Linked DNA regions of Homo sapiens: region 1 is linked to region 2. Evidence: fine-mapped QTL for protein levels in blood plasma. A gene starts in region 2. The other region holds a variant in brackets. All regions are shown on one strand. Distances are from middle to middle.

Region 1 (2,927 bases), 72 kb after region 2:
TTTCTTTTTTCTTTCTTTTTTTTTTTTGTGAAGCAACAAAAGTAGAGATTTATTGAAAATGAAAGCACACTCCACAGGGTGGGAGTGGGCTGAGCAATTGGCTCAAGTGCACAGTTATATAATTTTATGTGGTTTAAATGTCCTCTAGAGGTTTCCCATTGGTAACTTGGTGTACACTCTATGTAAATGAAGTAGTGGCCCGTTATCAGTCGGATTGGTTGCAGAAAGTGACCAATCAGAGGCTGAAGTTACAAAGTTAAACCTTAAACAACGTCTGATTGGTTGTGGAAAGTATTTTTACTCCATCTTCCCAGAAGCTGAAGTTGTCTGTTTTTTAAACCATTTTTCTTTAAAGAAATAAGAATAATCTAGTAAAAGAGTTTCCCCTCTCTTTAAAATTTGAGATAAGCCAGGTGCAGTGGCTCACACCTGTAATCCCAGCACTTTAGGAGGCCAAGGCTGGTGGATCACTTGAGGTCAGGAGTTCGAGACCAGCCTGGCCAACACAGTGAAATCCGTTCTCTACTCAAAATACAAAAATTCACCAGGTGTGTTGGTGCATACCTGTAGTCCCAGCTACTTGGGAGGCTGAGGTGGAAGAATTGCTTGAACCCAGGGGGCAGAGATTGCAGTGAACTGAGATCATGCCACTACACTCCAGCCTAGGCGACAGAGTGAGACTCTGGTAAAAAAACAAAAACAAAACAAAAAAAACCAAAAATATTTAGATAGCTCTATACTTTAAAGTTAAACTTAATTATAATTATATTCTTCTCACCTCAGGCAAAATTCAGGCAGTTGGCAATACACTTAGGGAGATTCATTTTATTATTTGATTATTGACTGTCTCATCTCTTCTAATCTTTTAAATAAAGAATAATGTAAAAATTAAATTTTGCTGATAGAATTCTACTTTGTGACAAAGATGATACTTTATCATGGAAAAAATAATAAATATTTGTTATAAATACTAGCTATGCTATCTTCAGGAATATTATTTGGATTACTTAAACACACTATTGACAAAATGCCTTATATCACCTTTCTAATTTGCCATATCAAAGTAAAATTATTAATAAGTTTGCTAGTAGGAAAAAAAAAACTTTCACTTATATTGCCTATTTTCAAATGTTAATAAAACTAAACCATTAATCCTTTCTTCCTGCAGATGAGGGGTATGTCTGATAAGTCACTCCGACTAGTGCTGTCCACATTTAGCAACATACGGGAGGAGCTTGGACATCTTCAAAATGAT[A/T]TGACAGTAAGATTTATTTTGATTTTTTCCAAAGCCTTTCTAGTTACTAGCTTCCTAATACAGAAATAAAGATGTCCAGTATATGTTTTTAAAATTTAATATAGCACAATATTATGCTTATTCAGACAAAGCTAAATTATTTTCTTCAAACAGTTAATTGGCATTGAGAGAGGAGAAAAGAGGTATCCAAAGTATAAATGAAAGAATGTTGGATGTGCACTTATCATTTAGTTTACCACTAAGGCAATTTAATGCTTAAAGCCAGAGAGTCATCTGCAAAGTTAAAATAATCTGACTCATTGGAGGTAAATTCCCCCTTTTTCATAATTATAAAGCATACTCTGAATTTCCATTCAAATATAATAACTTGAAAACATTTTTCTCCAAAAAATTAATTTTTTTCCATTTTCTATTTTAATTGGTGTTCTTGGTGCCATCAGCTAGATACATTCAGAATGCTTTCCACACATTGAATAATGCCTTGAGGACTTTGGAGTAGTTTTGTTGTTTCTGGGTTATGATGAACATATTTAGACTCTAATTTAAAAATTTACCACTCGCTGGGATTAACGAGGACTCTTTGTAGATTGGAGGAAAACATTAAAACATTTCAGAGGGTTGTGCTTCATTTCATGTATAGTTAGTCCATCAAAATGTCTCTTTCAATGAAGGTTTTAGAAGTTTCAATCATTTCCTATCCCGTATTTTCTTAACTTTTAAGAATTCTGCTTTATTAAGCAAGTACAAATGAAACAAGTGCTTATTTAAATCTTCCAAGGTAAGCAAGTCTTTGTATTATGTGACTGTTAAGTTTTTGCAATTCTGAATCATAATAAATAATTTATGCTTCTAGTCACTGGAAAATGACAAGATGAGACTTGAGAAAGATTTATCATTCAAAGACACTCAATTAAAAGAGTACGAAGAACTCTTGGCATCAGTGAGAGCAAATAATCACCAGCAGCAGGTAAACTGATGCTTTTATTGGTGTTAATCTACATTGATAGCTTTTCATATGCACAATTACTGGCACATTGGAGTTATGAGATATAATCAAGACAGAATTAAATATGATGGAAAAATTTGTTCATATGAGAATTGAGTGGCTTTGGGTATTTCTAATGGCTGAAAGCCCTCTCAGAAAAACAGATAATCTTATCTATTTTAGATATAAAGTACATATGGGACACAATTATTTGTCTTGTTGGGTGACCAGAATTGTAGAAATACTAAAAATCTAGGTTCATGCATTTATTTAATGTACTAACATGTCAATGAGAAAAGCTGTTGTAGACCTTAATACATGTTTGTGCAATAAATAAATGACTGAAAAAACTCTAGATGAATTCTCTGGATGTCTGAGCAGAGAGAATTCCTAGGAAATTGTAAGTAGTCTCTAAGGATTACCCTCTTCCTGATCTTTACTCCTATGGCTGTCCCAAATTCTTGCTCAGTTACTAGTTGTCATGTAAATAATCAGGCATATGGTCGTTTCTGTGCCTACTAGAAAGCAGGGTACAGTATTGTCACAGAGTAGCAAGAGTCTGATTGTTAAATTGAGACATTATAAATTCATCTAGTCATGATTCCCTCTCTCACAAAATAGATGAGTGAGACTAGAGGCAACACTATAATATCTTACATGGGTGACTTAATGTACCATCTAAGACCC
Region 2 (2,927 bases):
TGAATCTCCATATGTTAAAATGCCAGGCCCACCATTTACAGGTTATTTAACTTTGGAAAGTTTTTCAAACTCTCCATGTCTGTGCCTCAGTTTCTCACCTATAAACCTCATAAAGTCACTTCAATGATGAAATAATTATAATCCACATAAAACCCCTTGAACAGTACCTGACACAGAGTGAATAGTAAATCATAACACTTTGTTCACTGGGCAGAAAAAAAATGCTGCTAGCCCCCTGGATAACATTCTCTTCCTCTCTAGAATGGTGGTAGTATACTAGGTCCTATTGCACATATACACATTAGGAAGATACTTTTTACTAAAGTCACTTTGAATGAGAGTATTCTGGATTTAAGTGGTGCTGAAGTATATTGCATAGCAAAATCTGAGGGTAAGTAGGCATTATGATCAAAATTTCAAGTAGTAATAAATGTAAGTTGTAAACACATTTAAATCTCATTATGTCAGTTAAGGCATCTTTCAGGACTTGCAGCTCCCTTAATAACTAGATATTAAAAAGTCAATCAAACTCAGTGTTTCCTAGGGCACATATAAGGGCAGGAGAAATTCCCTTGCATAAATGAAAAACAACAAATGTGAATGCCAAAATGCAAAGCATTTGTGGAATCTTTAGGTTTTTCTTGACCATCCACCTTTCTATACAGCAATTCAATCATTTAGACAAATTTCCTTCAACAAATGATAGAAAAGAATACGAGGCTTTGAGTAAGATAAACAAGTCCATATATTAGACAGAGTCACTAGAAAGAGACCCCTTAGTAATCTTCCTTAACTGCAATTATCAGATGGGTTTTGCAAAGAATGCAAATTTATCTGTGAAAATTGGTGTATTCCTAGACTAATACTCATTATTTTAGTCTGGGAATCTGGAATAATAATACTTATGCTGGTAACTACCTTTGCTAAACTTAAGAACCATAAAAAGACACTTTCATATAACATGTGTGACTTTTTTTCTCTAGCAAGTTTTTTGCATTTTCATGTCTTTGTGAATTTTTAAGCCCATGTGCTTGGAAACTCTGGCTTCATCCCTGACATTCTACATTTCTGCTCTTCACAGACTCCTTTACCTGCTGGGCAGCCTTGTAGCTATCTCCGTGGCAAGGCAGGGCCTCTCCTGGCATGTAAACCTGCTAAGTGAATCCGCCCCTAAGGGCGTGTCAGTACCATTTCCTGGAGCAATGTCACAGGGTGGCTCCATTTTCCATTTGAGCTCAAATATTTTGCTGCTTCCTCTGTAGCTGCCAGACCTGCTCTTGCTGCTGCTCAGGTAGCTTTCTTCTCTTCCCGGCACCACTATTGGCAGAGGTTTTGATAAGCGGTTTCCACACGTGTGTCGTGTGTCTGTCTGCCTGCCTGACTGCCTGCTTGCCTGTCTTTTTTTTCCATTATATTTCTCTGTTTGTTCCTTAGGTAGAACATCTGGGAGGTCCCTTGCTGACCACTGGAAGAAGATGAGCTCGAGCTATTGGAGTGAGACGAGCAGCAGCAGCTGTGGAACCCAGCAGCTCCCAGAGGTGCTGCAGTGCCAGCCCCAGCATTACCACTGCTACCATCAGTCAAGCCAAGCCCAGCAGCCTCCAGAAAAAAATGTAGTGTATGAGCGAGTGAGGACCTACAGTGGGCCCATGAACAAGGTGGTGCAGGCCTTGGACCCCTTCAACTCACGGGAAGTGCTCTCCCCTCTCAAAACCACCTCCTCCTACCAAAATTTGGTTTGGAGCGACCATTCTCAGGTACAACAAAGAAAGCTATGCCAGACTAGTGGAGAAAGGCAATCTTCAACCTGATTTCTCTTCCTTTCTGCTTCTTTGCCTCTATTCCACAGGATATCTTTTGGTGGATTGCAGTTATATATGCCTTGGATAGTCACCCAAATTCATCTCTTGGCTGTTATTTCACTTACTAGTGTCTGTGGTTGTTTGTTTCCGGGTTTCACTGATTTTCATAATCTAACCATAGTATAGGAAGGCTCATTTTCTGTTTGATCTGACTGAAAGATCTGATCCAAGGAATCCCTTTGCCCCTACTGCAAAGCAGTTCTCAACTTGAGTACAGTAGATTTTTATTAGAACAAGTTCCTACTGATTAATTTCATATCAGAAGCAAACAGGTTTTTTTTGGTATCAAATATGGTGATACAGGTACTGTGGCATGTCTGAGTGATAAGCAATTATTTGTGCTCAGCAAATAGTATAGCTGCTCCAGGATAAGTGAGAGGTGCAGATGTCTGAATTGTCATATGTGTTTCATCTTCCAAGAATGACACACTTTTTATCGTACAGCCTAGGTGAATAATTTATGGAATACTTGTAGAAAGAGTACTGGAAGAGTTGATATAGGATTGAGGAAGGCAAGATGTAAGCAATTGTTACATGAAAGCTACAAAAGATGGAACTCTAAGACATCCCATAAAATGAAATACGTTTGTTTCTTAAGAGTTATTCTTAGCACCAATACCTGTGTTAATAACCTTCCCAATAAATACAAGGTAACCCTGCAAGACTGTATAAAATTAACAGCTTTATGTGTATTTTATCCTCTGACTCCTTTTACATTAAATTTGCATGTTTTAAGCTTTCTGGAAAATTCTGTCCAAACTGAAATTATGTTTTTAAGATACAAAAATCTCAAAAAGCAGTCATTGGGATATGATGCTATGTTACATTATTATTACCAATCAGGAGTAATACATATTATTTTTCCAAAACCCACAAATTTGAGTAGAATATAAAGTAACATTTCTCAACTGGTTGAGAAAAACTCCACTTATACTGAGGTCAAGGAGAAGAAAAATATAAAGGTCATAAATACCAGTTTGCATTAGTGATAAAAATAATGCAAATGTGCACTCCAATATTCATATTGAGATGCTAATGCAGAACAAAATGAATGCCACCTTTGTT

Which allele goes with the higher level. Alleles are on the strand shown, and positions count from the first base shown. The strength of an association depends on the size of the effect and on how common the allele is.
For the plasma level of the protein whose gene starts at base 1,265 in region 2, allele T in region 1 goes with a lower level than allele A (moderate association).

What was found. PIP is the chance, under the fine-mapping model, that this variant and not a neighbour inherited with it causes the effect. The UK Biobank Pharma Proteomics Project read protein levels with antibody pairs (Olink). The fine-mapping took linkage between variants from a reference panel, not from the people measured, so its PIPs are less certain.
Region 1: its variant is fine-mapped to the plasma level of the POF1B protein (UK Biobank, PIP 0.96). The variant lies in the coding sequence of POF1B. If it changes the protein, the assay may bind it differently, which can mimic a change of level.

Annotation. Positions count from the first base shown.
Region 1 is chrX:85,306,458-85,309,384 of GRCh38, reverse strand. It overlaps POF1B (POF1B actin binding protein), which reads left to right. Exons shown (of 17, transcript NM_024921.4): 10 at 1,169-1,261; 11 at 2,109-2,222. Among named protein-coding and RNA genes, the nearest start is that of ZNF711, 64 kb to the right of the region's middle. The variant A/T (reference allele first, on the strand shown) is at 1,256.
Region 2 is chrX:85,378,003-85,380,929 of GRCh38, reverse strand. It overlaps POF1B (POF1B actin binding protein), which reads left to right and starts at 1,265. Exons shown (of 17, transcript NM_024921.4): 1 at 1,265-1,291; 2 at 1,435-1,757. The coding sequence starts at 1,476.